Homo sapiens: one gene and its partners. The protein of the gene in region 1 interacts with the protein of each later gene in a pairwise test. Each region holds a gene or a part of one and is shown in the gene's direction. Other genes may lie near its edges.

Region 1 (4,275 bases):
GAAGGGGTGGGGGCTGGCCAGGAGGCCTTCCCAGGAGAGGTGGTAACCAAGTTGAAACCTGAAGAGTAAGAATGAGTTGGCCAGATAAGATGAAAAGGTATTCATGCCAAGGGGGCCAGTGAGTACAAAAGATTAGGGTGAAAGAAACACGGCATACAGTCACCCTCCATATCTGCAATCAAAAATATTCAGGAAAAAAAACAAAACACAAAAAATAGCAATACATTACTAAATAATGCAAATTTTTTAAAAATTAGTATTTTTGGCCAAGCGCGGTGGCTCATGCTTCTCATCCTAGCACTTTGGGAGGCCGAGGCGGGTGGATCACCTGAGATCAGGAGTTCAAGACCAGCCTGGCCAAGTTGGTGAAACCCCGTCTCTACTAAAAATAGAAAAATAAGGCAGGTATGGTGGCACGTGCTTATAATCCCAGCTACTCGGGAGGCTGAGGCAGGAGAATCGCTGGAACCTGGGAGGTGGAGGCTGCAGTGAGCTGAGATTGGGCCACAGAACGAGACTCCGTCTCAAAAAAATACGTATTTTTACAGGTGGTGGCTCATGCCTGTAATTTCAGCACTTTGGGAGGCCAAGGCAGGCGGATCACTTGAGGTACTTGAGGTCAGGAGTTCTAGACCAGCCTGGCCAACATGGTGAAACCCTGTCTCTAATAAAAATACAAAAATTAGCCGGGCGTGGTGGCGGGCGCCTGTAATCCCAGCTACTTGGGAAGCTGAGGCAAGAGAATCGCTTGAACCTGGGAGTCAGAGGTTGCAGTAAGCCAAGATTGTGCCATTGCACTTCAGCCTGGGTAACAGAGTAAGACTCTGTCTCAAATAAATAAAAATAAAAATATAATAACTACATAGCATTTACATTGTATTAGGTATTTTAAGTAATCTAGAGATGATTTAAAGTATGTGGGAAGGCCAAGCACAGTGTCTCCCACCTGTAATCCCAGCACTTTGGAAGGCCAAGGTGGGAGGATCACTTGAGCTCAGGAGTTCAAGACCAGCCTGGGCAATATAGTGAGACCCTATCTCTTATTTAAAAAAAAAATAGTAATTTTAAAAAAAAGTATATGGGAAGAGCAGTGCAGGTTTTATGCAAATACTACACCATTTTTATATAAGGGATTTGTGCATCTGCAGAGTTTGGTATCTGGGTAACTAATCCCCAGCAGATTCAGAGGGACGACTGTACTTAAGGGAATGACGGAAGCCAGCCTAGCAGAGCTAGAGAATCAAACACCAGATGAGGAGGAACTGGAATCCCAAGGCAGTTTCACTGTCTTCATACATAGTTCCCTGGGCCCAATCCAGAAGCCCCCAAGCCAGCAAAGCTCCTATGCCTGCTAAACCCTAGCACCTGAGAGCCAAAGAGGTTTTGTAGAGAACCTGGTCTCTTAGTGATGGGGACATGGTACCTTAGGAGTCCAGTGAGCAAAAGAATGAACCTCTGATTGTGCTTCTCATGTGTCCCCCAAACCCAACAGGTTCTGTTTGGATTCTGCAAAGCAGACTCGTCAGAAAGTTGCTGTGAACTGGACCAACTTCAGCCTCAAGAAAACCACTCCTAGCACAGCTCAGTGAGGTACAGAGACCCCAAGAGTTACATCCACTGCCTCTCCCTGTGCTTGGCCACCCTCTCTGTACGCTCACCAGACCATTCTGTGCTCTGGGGCACAGGGAGTTGGACTTGGGGCATGGGATCCCTGGCTTCTGTCTGCATCTTCACAGCAATGGCAGGCTACAGCCTCCAAAGGTCAAGGCCCCATCTCCTCCCGCAGCCACTCACCTGTAGGCCTCTGTTCTATTACTCCTCCCTGGGCCCTGCTGCCCATGCTCCTGAAGGTCCCCTTCCTGGACTGGCATCTCCTAAGGCATAACCATCAGGGTCTTAACCAGCTGATTTCAAAAGTGCCCAGGTAGCCATCAGACCCATGGGGCTGCCCTCACCCCTGATGTTATCAGTCCTTGTGTCAAGTCCCACTTCCTGCCCTGGGCTCCTCAGTGTAGGCTACCAAGGTACTTCCCAGCTGAAGCAGTATAAGAAGGGGCCAGCCCTGAGTGAACATCGTGGGTCATTTAGGCATGGAGGAGTTGATGGGGGCTACCCAAAGCAGGGCAAGCTCCATGAGGATATTGGTAGCCACAGTGCCTCCTAGAGGAAGAGACCTGGGTGCCAGATGGCATTGGCATCCCCTCCCAGCCACCCACACAGGTCCTTTTGTCTGAAACAATGATGTACCAGATGATGATCTGGACTGGGAACAGACAACTGGAGAAGGCACTGGGCCTGGAACCCTATTGATGAAGAGAAGGGCAGCTAGCAGGCAGACCTTGGGCTGGGGGCTGAGTGGCTCTGCAGTTTCATATCTCAACCCTCAGCTGTGTCCCTGGGGTCAGGCCTTTTCCGGCTGGCAACCACACAGCTGTCCTGGAGACTGGAAGGCTGGGGCAGGCAGACTGAGCTCACAAACAACTCACTTCCCCCATGATGGCCCCACCTGTCTTTCTCCTCTTTCCAGTGCCAGGCCAGCTCCTCTCTGGGCCTAAGCAGCAAACTTCCTGGACCCTCAGCTCCCCAGGGGCAGCTCAGAGAGCCTGCAGCCAGGACAGCCTTCAGAGCTGGGGCTCCCTGTGACCCTTGTGCTGCCCCAGAGTCCAGACTGTCTTCTTTACACTCACTTTAGTCCTCCTCTCCTCTGAAGGGGTTGGGCTCAGTCAGCCCCCTTTGCCAAACTGAGATGCCCACAAGCCCCAGAAGTATCTTCCAGATCCAAGGTGGCCTCCTGCCTCTTCTCCACCTCCATGGGAACCAGGAGTAGCAGGAACCCCAGGCACTTCATCTGTTATCCCTACTGAGAGAAAAGAGATCGCATTTCCTCCCACAAGCCCAGTTCTGTCATTCAAGAAATCAAATGCAACTGTCTCCTTCCACTGCCTCCTCTTGACCCTTTTTCACCTGGTCTGGCCTCTTTTCCAAGATAGAAGATGCCCCTCTCCCCACCCCCTAGTAAGCGCTCTCCTTTGAGCCTCTTCACCCTCCCCCGGGCTGTGCACCTACAGTCAGAGGCAGGAGCACAGCTGCACAGCTGGCCTCCCAGCCCCTGCTGATGGACAGCAAGTGCCAAAGGCTGGATCTACTCAAGGATTGTCCCCCACCTTGTCAGGATCCTGGGACTGGGGCTCTGTCTCCCAACCCGTTAACCTGCATCCTCTGCTACAGGTGATCCAGGGAATCTTCAACATTTTCAGCCCAGGGAACAAAAATAGCAGCCAGCTGTTTCTGCTACCAGAGACCCATGGGTACCCAAGTGGCATGGGGAGGCTGGAGCATGGCTCATTGCTTACTGTGATTCTGCTCTTTTTTTCTTTCTCAGGCCCTGCCCAGGCTGAGCTGCTTCAGGGCGTCCTGAGGCCCTGACTGCCAGCTGAAGGCGTATAATTTTTCCCTCCGTGTGCCCCACCTACCCGTCCAAGACCCTCTGTGCTCCCCACCATCCTGGACCAACCAAAAGCTGAACGGATGCCACACTGTGCTGGGGCCCCTTGACCTCAGCAGAGCCGCTTCCTGGTGCTACGCAGCCTCCACACTCAGAGCCCGTGGACTGGGCTGGCCTAAGGGCCAGGGCTGATGGTACTGCTGGCCCAACACTGCTCTCTTTGTGTTTGGTTTTTTTGTTTTTGTTTTTATTTTGTTTTTTTCCAATTCTTTACTTTTGATACTGTGAAGATCTTTCGTGCCGAAAGATAAAGCAACATTTGGACACAGAGTTGGCATGTTGGTGATTTGTGGGTCTGGGCGGGGAGGGAGTTGAGGGTGTGCTCAGAAGCATGGGCTCTCCCTTAGTCACTAACCCTAGCATGCACCATGCATCAGCAGTTTGGTGCTATTGTCCCATTTTACAGGTGAGGAAACTAAAGCCGATAGGAAAGTGACTCAGCTCAACTTAGTCTGGCTGATTAGCATTGAGCGCAGACTGGTATGATTATGGCATCTGTGCCCTTTTCTCCTTTTGGGAGGTCTCTGGTATGTGAGCCTGGGGCAGCCCCTTCCCCACTCTTTCCTGTTTCCCTCTTTGCAAGATGGGTGAGTTGGAGGGGTTGAAGATGGTCTCTGTGCATCTGGATGTGAGAAGAGGTCTAGGAAAGACCCTGAGGCCTTCATGGATCTGTAGCCTGGGCCATCGAGGCCCCTCACACTGACTTCACAGTCAGGGGAAGTTGGGGGTAAATTGAGTTTTTTATAAATTAGATCTGATTTTCCAGTGGG
Region 2 (3,500 bases), about 110 Mb from region 1:
CTCATTCTTTTTTATTTTTCATATTTTCACCTTCTACTAAGTAATTAATGGGCAATTACAATTTGCCAGTATTGCACCAATCATTAGAAAGTTTTTTAAAAGTCCCTGTCTTTCAGGAACTCATTCATCATGGAAAAGAGAGAGTTTGAAATATGGTAACTATTTTATGGAGGAGAAGTACAGGGTGCTTTGGCATCACAAAACAGGGACAATGATTTATGGAGGTCAGAGAAGTCCTTATAGAAGAAATGGTGTTTAAACTGAGATTTGAAGAATTTCAGTCAGGGAAAAGAGCAGAACGGGGAATGAGTTGTCCCAAGAAGGGAACAATATGTTAAAATGTTTGTAAGTGAGGATTGTACATATTGTAGAGACTTAAAGAAGCTCACTGTAGTTAGAGCTTTAAGTATTGAATGGGACATGACAAGAAAAGAGGATATGGAGAGTTCAAAGCCAAATCATGCAGGATCTTGTCAGCCATGTTAAAGAGTTCAGAACTTAGTTTAAGGACAGTGATGAGCCATTGAAGAATTGACTTAGGAATGATATAATCAGATTTTCCTCAAGAAAGGTTGTTTTAAATGTAGAAAATGAATTGGAGGAGCAACAAAATTGGAAGCAGGCAGACCTATTAGGATGTTGTTAAAGTTTTCTAGTTAAAATACTAGAGATGTTTATGGCCTATAATACACTAGGGTAGTGAGAGTGGACACAAGTCAATGGATTTGAGATTTTAAATAAGTAGAATAGATAGGTCTTAGTGATTAATTGTTAATATTGATTGGATAGGTAACTTAGAGGTGATGAGGCATGATCAGATTTTGGGTGTATTTTGAAGTCAGCAGAATTTGCTGAGGGACTAGTGGGCTATGAAAGAGAGCTGATAATGATGACTCCGGTTGTTTTTGCTTCAACATCCTGAAGGATGGAGTTGCCATTTACCAAGACAGAGGCAATTAGGTTTGGGAATAGGGGAGACTGGAGATTAGGCATTCCATTTTGCTTGAGATGTCATTTATAAACAGTTGAATTTCCAATGTCTGTGCATTAGGGGAAAGATCTAGCATGGAGATTTATATTTTGGAATTTAATATAGATGGTATTTAAACAATGTCTCGCTCGGTCACCCAGGCTGGCATGCAGTGTTGTGATCACCACTCACTGCAGCCTTGACTTCTGGGGCTCAATCAATCCTCCCGCCTCAGCCTCCTGAGTAGCTGGGACTACAGGCACATGCCACCACGGCTGGCTAATTTTTTCCATTTTTTGTAGAGACAGAGTTTTGCCATGTTGCCTAGGCTGAAATTTTAAATATTTCACAGGTAAAATCTTTATTAACATTACAGTTGCTTAAAATTTATTTTCATTTTCTTAGGTACCAGGGACTGCAGAGAATGCCCGGTCATGTATTCGAGCTTATTTTTATGATCTACATGAAACTCTGTGTCGTCAAGAAGAAATGGCTCTAAGTGTTGTTGATGCTCATGTTCGTGAAAAATTGATTTGGCTCAGGCAGCAACAAGAAGATATGACTATTTTGTTGTCAGAGGTTTCTGCAGCCTGCCTCCACTGTGAAAAGACTTTGCAGCAGGTAGGTAGTTTAAATGTGGTTAGGGACTTAGTTGTAAGTTTAAGTAGATAATTACCAGAGGTATACATTAGTGTGTTTTATTAATATTTTGTGTCTGCTGTATGCAGTAACTTTGTGCTTAGGAAATGGTCTGCAACCTTGAATTATTTCACTAGTATGGAATTATCAGTGTCGTTCACGTGCCTTTCCCACCATAAGCCATGGGTTCTTGAGGCCTTCTAACTTCTTGCCATTCTTCAGTTATGCCAAATCCTTTTACTCTTCTTTGCCAAGCATATATGTAGTTTTTTTTTTTTTTCTGCTTGGAGTGCATATATCTCTCTTTTCTAATAGTGGAAATCTTCCTTCTCCTTCAAGGTCCAGCTTAAATATTTGCCTTTCTTTGAAGCTTTCTATTTGTTGGTCTTTTTTTGAGTGCCTCTCTACCATGTACTGCCTACGTCTGCTATAATTCAGTGGTTCTTCACTGTTAGAGCAAACGTATGTTTTGTGATGGTTGAGATACCATAAGAAATTTGTTACCCAGTTTGCAGATGACTTACTTTTTTAAATAAATGAGATTCAGTTATTCTAACACAAATGTCAGCTTTACCCATTTGTGTTTTGGATCTGTTTTCATAAGTGTGAGGTATAAGAATAACTATTGCCCTAGGAATTTCAGAAAAGCTGCAGTCTGTGTTATCTTCACTGATATATTGCTAATAATTGTGTTGATTTCAAATCATTGTAGGCTAAGCCTTGTACCATTGTAGAGCTTTTTCTCTTAAATATGTGATTACACTTACATGAGAGTGGCCAGTCTATAGCCTCATCAGTCTTGGGTTATCATTTAGTCCTTACCACACTGAATTGTAACAGTTGATATGTATGCTATTTATTAAGTTGATTTTCAGCTCCAAACCTACTCTTCTATCCTCTATTTTGTGATACTAGGGCTAGAACTCTACAGACCTCATAATTGTGTTGCCAGCTGGGCCCATGTTAGGTACTGTCAAGAGGGGGCATAGTTACTCATGTGAGGAGACCACCCTTCTCGGAGGTTTGAGTTTCAGCTCCATGAGCCACTCCTGCAAGTTTCTAAGTTTTAATAATTCTAACTTCTTCCTTTTATTCCTTTAGCACTGGAAGTGGTAGCTATGTTATTTCATACAATTGCTACCTCCTTAATACCTCAGAGTTCCTTTTAACCTTTTAGCTACCTAGTTAATAACTACACCTAGTTAACAGTTTTTATTTTAAGTTCTTTCTATTCAAGTAATGGTGTGATTTGTGTCTTCCGATTTGACCTTGAATGACACAATATGCCTATGTGTTTTAGATGCTGACCTTGTTCATCTTTGATGCATCTTGTTCATCTTTGTGTCACTAAATTCTTTGCATCTAGATAGAAAGAGCTTAATAAATACATGTTTAACTCATGGCGGATAATGAAGCTACATAGCAAAATCAGAGTGGAGTCATGTCCTAAATCATATTTACTTGAACACTTAAAAGTATTTTCATATTTATTTTATGAAAAAGTTTGTTCATAGTTACTGAAATATTTAAGTATTTTAGAGTTTCTGAAGTGTTGTGCCAAAATGACTGGTATATTAGTCCATTTTCACACTGCTTTACAGATACTACCTGAGACTGGGTAATTTATAAAGGAAAGGGGCTTAATTTACAGGTTTGCATGGCTGGGGAGGCTTCAGGAAAGTTAGACAATCATGGGGGAAGGCGAAGGGGAAGCAAGCACCTTGTTTACAGGACGGCAGGAGAGAAAGAGAGAGCAAAGGAGAGGTGCCACACTTTAAAACCATCAGATGTCATGATTAATCACTATCATGAGAACAGCATGAGGGAAACTGCCCCAATAATCCAATCATGTCCCTCCCTTGACATGTGGGGATTACAATTCGAGATGAGA
Region 3 (4,004 bases), on another chromosome or scaffold:
ACCACTAAAAACTTATCCATGTAACCAAAAACCACCTGTACCCCCAAAACTACTGAAATACAAGTTTTAAAAAGATGAAAAAAATTTTTTTTACATAAAATATCTTTCTCCCCAAAAACACATAAAATAAAATAAAAATATGTTTTAAAAAAGAATTGAGGTGGCTCTTAACTAGATAATTAGAATCGCTGGTGGTAATCACTGGCGAAATACGCGTACGTTTCTGTAGGTTTAGGGACCGGGCAAGTCTGGGAAATGCCACCTGGTGGTTCTCAGCCCAGACTACACCTCAGACTCACCTGAAGAGGTGGGGTTTATTAATATCTCAATCAGCATCTCTGGGGGTGGAACTAGGTATTTGTAACGTCTCCCCGTGGGTTTCTAATGCACAGCTAAGTGCCCAGGATAAGTGCCCTAGGGCAATCTAAGTAAAACGTGGCACAGCAAACAATTTTGTAAATGAATATTAACTGGAGACATGTTCTCGAAATCATGTTAAGAGAAAAAACCATGTACAAAAAAGCTCATAGTGCAGTATGATTCCATTTCTGCAATGAGTGTAAGACTAGAAATTAACCGTGGTTATGTGAAATGTGTGGTATATTTGCATTTACTAAATTAAAAAAAATGTTTCTGAGACAGAGCGCCCGGGCTGCAATGCAGTGGTGATCACAGCTCACTGCAGCCTGGGACTCCCGGGCTCAAGCGACCCTCCCGCCTAGGACTCTCAAAGTGCTGGGATTACAGGCACGCGCCACCACGCCCGGCCTGCATTTACAATACTTTTTACGACGAATACTTACGGATGTTATATTAAGAAAATAGTTAACATCTGAGGTGCATTCTTCCAAATAATAACGTAGACAGCACTTACTGGGACCGTCTGGCACCAGGAACCGTCCTGGGGACCGCCAAAGGGCGGCTTAACCTCGCAGCTGCGCAGACGCATGCAGTCCCCGGGCTCTCCTGCCGCGGGACCTCGGCAGACCTAACCCTGAACGCCACCAGCCCGACCTCGCCCCGCCCCTCCCCTCCCTTCCCGGGCCCCGCCCCCGCTTCCTGCCAATTCGCCCCGCCTACCCCGCGTCTCCGCATCCTCTTCCTGGCTTCGCTCCATCAGCCTCGCTTTCGCTGGGCGCTGTCCCTCTCCGCGGCGGTCTGGTTTCCCCGACGTGTTTTGTTTGCGACGCTGTCGTGTAACAGCGCGCTTTACGGCCGCGGGGACGGAGCGAGCCGGCGCCAGGGCCCCTCGGGCCGGGAAGAGGGGAAGGGGAGCGAGGTTGATGCCCGGCGGAGGGGCGAGCGCGGCGTCTGGCCGGCTTCTCACCGCCGCGGAGCAAAGAGGGTCCCGGGAAGCGGCAGGGTCGGCGTCCAGGAGCGGCTTCGGGGGCTCCGGCGGCGGCAGAGGCGGAGCAAGCGGCCCCGGGTCCGGGAGCGGAGGCCCGGGGGGCCCCGCGGGCAGGATGAGCTTGACCCCGAAGGAGCTCTCGAGCCTGCTGAGCATCATATCGGAGGAGGCGGGCGGCGGCAGCACCTTCGAGGGCCTGTCCACCGCCTTCCACCACTACTTCAGCAAGGCCGACCACTTCCGCCTGGGCTCGGTGCTCGTCATGCTGCTCCAGCAGCCCGACCTGCTGCCTAGCGCGGCGCAGCGCCTCACGGCGCTCTACCTGCTCTGGGAGATGTACCGCACCGAGCCGCTGGCCGCCAACCCCTTCGCCGCCAGCTTCGCGCACCTGCTCAACCCCGCGCCGCCCGCCCGCGGCGGCCAGGAACCCGACCGCCCTCCGCTCTCAGGTACCTCCTGAAGCCAGCTGTGCCGTGTGGATAGCGTTAGATTCCGCAGCTTTCCACCTGCGCTGCTGGGAACTCACCTGAAAGGGAAATTAACTATCCCTGTGAAATGATCATCCTCTTTTTCCGCCTCTCTCTGCGTTCCCACGCCCCTCACTCCTCCCCGCCTTAACTCTAAAGAATGGAGAGGTGGTAGCTTAATTGCAAGTTCGTGACACCGAAAATGATTTCTCTATACACCCCATCACATCATACAGCTCAGTGTAGGTCTTGACATGTTTAGTGTCTCAAATACGGTTCGTTCTTCGAAAACCCGTCTGTGGTGTGTGAAGTTAAAACCAATGATAAGACTGGATCTGTCCCCGGTTTTTAGTCTCAAAGGAGTACGTGGAAGTCAGTATTAAGAAGCTGAAGAAGTTGGTGGGCGGAAATACACATGAAACACCTTAAAGACTTTGCAGCCGCCTTTCTTAGCCTGTTAGGGATGGGGGCAGAGGATAGAAAGTCTCAAATTGATGATCTCGCGTTTGGAAACACATGACTTACTGGACATTATGTAAAGTGCATACGTGGTATACATTATGTAAAATGTATTTACTATTGTGTGGCATTGGTGAGATCAAACTAGTAGGTTAGATGCGAGGCTGCATTTTTTTTTGTTTTTAAGCTCAAGCAGGTGATGCTTTATGTGGATTTGCTTTGCGAGAAGACTTGCAGTCAGAAAACAAGAAAAATGGCATGTTGACAACGGGACCTGAAGGATTTAGGAACCAGTGTAGTGGAGGAAGCACACAGAGATAGGAAACAGCTTGATCTTACATTCCTTAACCAGTATAGGTAGGGCCTGCTATACAGTGAGTCAAGGCTAGGCAGTAGATTTTGAAGTAACACCAGGAGTTTGTTTTTATGGTACAGGAGGGCCGCGTTTCTAGTTAGTGTTCCTGCCGGGCATCCCATCAGGATCTTCTGATAGGTGTCCTGTAGTGCCCTTATCTAAGAAGGGCAACCCTTTGTATTGGCCTGAGATGCCTTTAGGGTACAGGTACTTAACCTGCTTCTAAGAAGCTTGTGACTGCCCAGAAAGTGAATGTAACACAGGTTTGTGGTCAAAACTCACCACCTAGGCCTGGCTAGGTGGCTCACGCCTATAATCCCAGCACTTTTGGAGGCCGAAGTGGTGGAGGTTGGGGGGTGGGAATTGCTTGAGGCCAGGAGTTTGAAACCATCCTGGGCAACATAGTAAGATCCTGTCTTTACAAAGCAATAAAAAATTTGCTGGGCATGGGGTGGCTAACACCTGTAGCCCCAGCTGCTCAGGAGTTTGAGGCAGGAGGATCACTTGAGCCTAGGAGTTTGAGGCTGCAGTGAGTTAGGGTGACAGCTTCTAAACACACACACACACACAGACAACCACCACCCTAGGGTGCTTGTATTAGAGGATTGGGACACTGGGATTTAGATCAGAGGGCCCTTTGAATTCTGAAGAACAAGTGAGGCAAAGAAACCGTGACTTATATAATGTCATTCTCATGTACAGTGAATCTAAACCCACACCTAGTCCGTAGACCGCATTATACACACAGATTTGCCATAGGTGGGATGGCAGTCACCAGAGAAGGAATCCATGGATGGATTATATTTAACCATTTTGTGCCTCAGATTCCTCATCTGTAAAATGCAAATAGTAACAATTCCCAGCTGGTAGAGTTGTTACAAAGAATAAAAGTACCTGTGAGTGGGCTGGGCGCGGTGGCTCACGCCTGTAATCCCAGCACTTTGGGAGGCCGAGGCGGGCGGATCACAAGGTCAGGAGATCGAGACCATCTTGGCTAACACGGTGAAACCCCGTCTCTACTAAAAATACAAAAAATTAGCCGGGCGCGGTGGCGGGCGCCTGTAGTCCCAGCTACTTGGGAGGCTGAGGCAGGAGAATGGCGTGAACCTGGGAGGCGGAGCTTGCAGTGAGCCAAGATTGTGCCACTGCAATCCGGCCTGGGCTAAAGAGCGGGACTCCGTCTCAAAAAAAAAAAAAGTACCTGTGAGTGTTACCCACTATTATACCATTATTAAAGTAGGTAGGGATGGTGTGTAGATAACATAGAAGAGAAAATATCAGTGCCTACACTCCACTCCCAGAGCTGCTGATATTGTATGTTTAGGGTAAGACATTTAGTGGGTATGTCTTCAGAATGCTTTTCAGATGACTCTGA
Region 4 (3,500 bases), on another chromosome or scaffold:
GCCATGGTATTGATCTCCTCCACTCTTCTTATTTCATTTCCCTGAACCCACATCTTCCTCCTTCCCTGACTTTCTTGCCTCTCTCTAAGCCACTTCTACCTTTCTCCCCCTGCCCTTGTTTTTCCCTTTTCGCCTCCTGTAGATTCAGGACATTCTGAAGGTGCTGGTGTCCGACCTTAACCGTTCCAATGGGGTAGCGCTCCCCCCATTGGACAAGTGGAAGGTGAGGCAGTGCCGAGACCCCTCTCTGGCTTGCTCTCTCCAGCTGTGCATGCCCCTGAGGCTTCTCTGGTTTGGGGGATACTTTGCCTCTGGCTTATTTTATGTTGCTGCCATTAACCTTCCGCCTGTTTATGTCCGCTTCTTCACCTGCTTGATTGATTGGGTTTTTATTCTTCCCCCAAATCTTTTATCATCTTGGAGAAGGTGAGACATATCTTAAAGTTTAAAAGTTTAAAGGTAATTTGGGAATAACTTTTAGAGCAGGTGTGTGGGATTTGGGGCTTTTTTTTTTCTTCTTTTTTTTTCAGAGACGGAGTCTCACTGCCCAGGCTGGAGTGCAGTGGCACAATCTTGGCTCACTGCAACCTCTGCCTCCTGGGTTCAAGTGTTTCTCCTGCCTCAGCCTCCTGAGTAGCTGGGATTACAGGTGCCTGCCACCATGTCTGGCTCATTTTTGTATTTTTAGTAGAGATGGGGTTTCACCATGTTGGCCAGGCTGGTCTTGAACTCCTGACCTCAAGTGGTCCACCCACCTTGGCCTCCCAAAGTGCTGGGATTACAGGCGTGAGCCACTGCTCCCAGTCTGGGATTCTGGGATTTGGGCTTTTGAATGCCCAGTGTGGGTACTCTCAGACTAGGAGAGATGAAAAAAAAAAAACACAAAAAAACCAACAGACCTTTAGGTTTTACCCTAAAGGCAAAGATCAGTAAACCACCTAGAAGTTAGTGTTTTTTTTTTTTTTTTAAATTAATTCACTTTGGTTTAAGAGTAGGGAACAAAGGGTTAAAAGAAAATGAGTTCACATTATAGTTGGAAGGATTGAAGCTATTTTTTCAGAGGAACTAACTGTAAAAGTTGTGAGGTTAACCAAACAGATGAGTGACCAAGACGTTCTGCCCCTAATCTCTCCAAATGGACATTTAGCCATATTCATTGGGCTCTTGACAACAAAGGCACTTTGATAAATAAACAGTGGATAAAATAGATGAACAAGGTAGGCTGCACACCGAGGGAGGCAGACTCCTCTGAAGGAGGCAAGAGAGAATTTTGGAACATTCCAAATGCTCAGCTCGGGGGGAGGTTGGTTCCAAATGGACTCCAGGCTGGAGAAGGTGGCATTTGAAGCTGGCTTGAAGATTAAAGGTGGGTAACATTAATCCATATGGGGAGTGGGGGAGGCAGGGGGAGCGGTGAGGCCGTGGCCAGAGTGTGAACTCACAGAGCACCTTTCAGGAACACAGGGAGCCTGGTGGGGGGCAGGGCATGGAGGTACACAGGGCTGGGAGACAACCTCCTCTGGCTGTGATTTGGCATTTCTTCCATCTCTAACTCACCTGGGGGACTCCTTCCTGCCAAGCCAGAGGAGCAGGGCACGAATAGAGCCTGATCCTGTTGGAGATGGGTATGGGGAGAGGGACTGAGACAGAGCAGCCTTGGCTGCTGTTAGAGAGTTGTCCAGTCTCATACCTGTTACCCTCCAGTTGATCAGGTCTGTCCAGGTGCTGTGACTCACCTTGCCAGCTCAGAGGAGACGCTGAGTGGTACGGCTGGGGAGCACAGGCTTAGAGGTGACCTGCAGCCAAAAGCATTTGGCTTTTGCTCTGCCAATGGTCCAGTGGATTAGGGGGTCTTCAGCCTGTTTCCTAATGCTCTGAGATTCTGTGCCAGCCCAGGTCCCTCTATTCTGGAAACAAAGGCCTAGATCCCCGTATTTCCTTCTTGCTGTTTTGTTTTTGTTTTTGAGAAAGAGTCTTGCTCTTTCTCCTGGAGTGCAGTGGTGTGATCTTGGCTCACTGCAACCTCCCCCTCCCGGGTTCAAGTGATTTTCATGCCTCAGCCTCCCAAGTAGCTGGGATTACAGATGTTGCACCATCACGCCCGGCCATTTTTTTTGTATTTTTAATAGAGATGGGGTCTTGCCATGTTGCTCAGGCTGGTTTCGAACTCCTGGCCTCAAGTGATTCACCTGCCTTGGCCTCCCAAAGTGCTGAGATTACATGTGTGAGCCACCATGCCCAGCCCCTTGCTGTTTTTATACCTTCTCTATATCCGTAACTGTTTCCAATGTAGGTTTTGTTTTTTTTTAATTTCTCATTTTTATTACCATGTAAGTTTTCTACTCCAGGAATGCAGGCCTGTGATCGTAGTATCCTGAGCGGAGCTGATAACATTTCCAGAAGTAGGGAATAATGGAGAGAGAAAAAATATCTTAATGGGATGGGACATTTTGAGGAGAGTAGGCTTTTTTAAAAACTCCATCTTGGCTACAAGACTTAAAATAATGAAATAACTTGGTTGCTCACAAAATAATCATGCTATGTGTGTCAGAAAGTCCTCAGAAAAATGCTTTTTCAGCCAAGTGCAGTAGCTCATGCCTGTAATCCCAGCACTTTGGGAGACTGAGGAGGGTGGATCACCTGAGGTCAGGAGTTCGAGAGCAGCCTGGCCAACATGGTGAAACCCCATCTCTACTAAAAATACAAAAATTAGCTGGGCGTGGTAGCGTGCACCTATAATCCCAGCTGCTTGGGAGGCTGAAGCAGGAGAATCTCGAACTCAGGAGGCGGAGGTTGCAGTGAGTGGAGATCTCGCCACTACACTCCAGCCTGGGCGACAGAGTGAGACTCCCATCTCAAAAAAAAAAAAAAAAAAAAATTCCCTTCCTCTGAGCATTCTTGTGTCTAATCCTAGAGATCAGTGGGAACCGAAGATGCCAGGAGGGCCCTAAAGCCTAGCAGGGTCCATTGCTAGGAGTGCCAGCCTTCCCTCAAGGCTAATGCCTGGCCAGCAACTGAACCCTTGCTCTGACCTATTAGATTCAGTTGTAGGCATTGTCAAGGAAACACCAGGTTCCATGGTCACAGTAAACTTGCAAAGATGCAAAGGCAGCTTGGCTCATCTTCAGTTCCACCAGCCTCTGCAGCACTTGCTCTAAGGAGGGAAGCAGATTTGGGTTTTCAGAAGCCAGGGCTGAAGGGTCCAGTGAGCGCGCAGTCCTTTCCCTGGAGAGAGGTGTAGTCACTTCTCCCAGACCCAGCTTCCGTGGCCAGGCCCTGGCTCCCTGGTGTTTTTCTCTTGTCCAGCTTAGCTGGTCAGCCAGCTTTTTCCACTGTCTGCCCATCTGGCTTGTCAGATATTAGAAGATCTCTAGAACCAGAGGCTTGGGCGAAGAGTAAGGTCAGAGCCTGGAGAGAGGCTGGGTGGGGCTCTGATCAAGCAGGTAGGTCCAGTTGGGGGCAAGGGAGAGGCTCCACATGACCCCAAGTTCTGAATCCTA

Evidence for each region.
Region 2: the proteins of FAM193B (region 1) and TRIM23 interact in binary tests that used the Homo sapiens proteins (3 or more experiments, as listed by UniProt).
Region 3: the proteins of FAM193B (region 1) and CNOT11 interact in binary tests that used the Homo sapiens proteins (3 or more experiments, as listed by UniProt).
Region 4: the proteins of FAM193B (region 1) and GOLGA2 interact in binary tests that used the Homo sapiens proteins (3 or more experiments, as listed by UniProt).

What each region holds. Positions count from the first base shown.
Region 1 is NC_000005.10:177,519,289-177,523,563, reverse strand, and holds the end of FAM193B (protein FAM193B), read left to right. Parts: intron 1-298; exon of another isoform or gene 299-405; intron 406-1,492; coding exon 1,493-1,589; 3' UTR 1,590-1,590; intron 1,591-3,382; 3' UTR 3,383-3,775; downstream 3,776-4,275.
Region 2 is NC_000005.10:65,607,334-65,610,833, reverse strand, and holds part of TRIM23 (E3 ubiquitin-protein ligase TRIM23), read left to right. Parts: intron 1-1,375; coding exon 1,376-1,591; intron 1,592-3,500.
Region 3 is NC_000002.12:101,251,682-101,255,685, forward strand, and holds the start of CNOT11 (CCR4-NOT transcription complex subunit 11), read left to right. Parts: upstream 1-1,204; 5' UTR 1,205-1,283; coding exon 1,284-1,797; intron 1,798-4,004. UniProt on the Homo sapiens protein: Component of the CCR4-NOT complex which is one of the major cellular mRNA deadenylases and is linked to various cellular processes including bulk mRNA degradation, miRNA-mediated repression, translational repression during translational initiation and general transcription regulation.
Region 4 is NC_000009.12:128,269,508-128,273,007, reverse strand, and holds part of GOLGA2 (golgin subfamily A member 2), read left to right. Parts: intron 1-142; coding exon 143-223; intron 224-3,500. UniProt on the Homo sapiens protein: Peripheral membrane component of the cis-Golgi stack that acts as a membrane skeleton that maintains the structure of the Golgi apparatus, and as a vesicle thether that facilitates vesicle fusion to the Golgi membrane.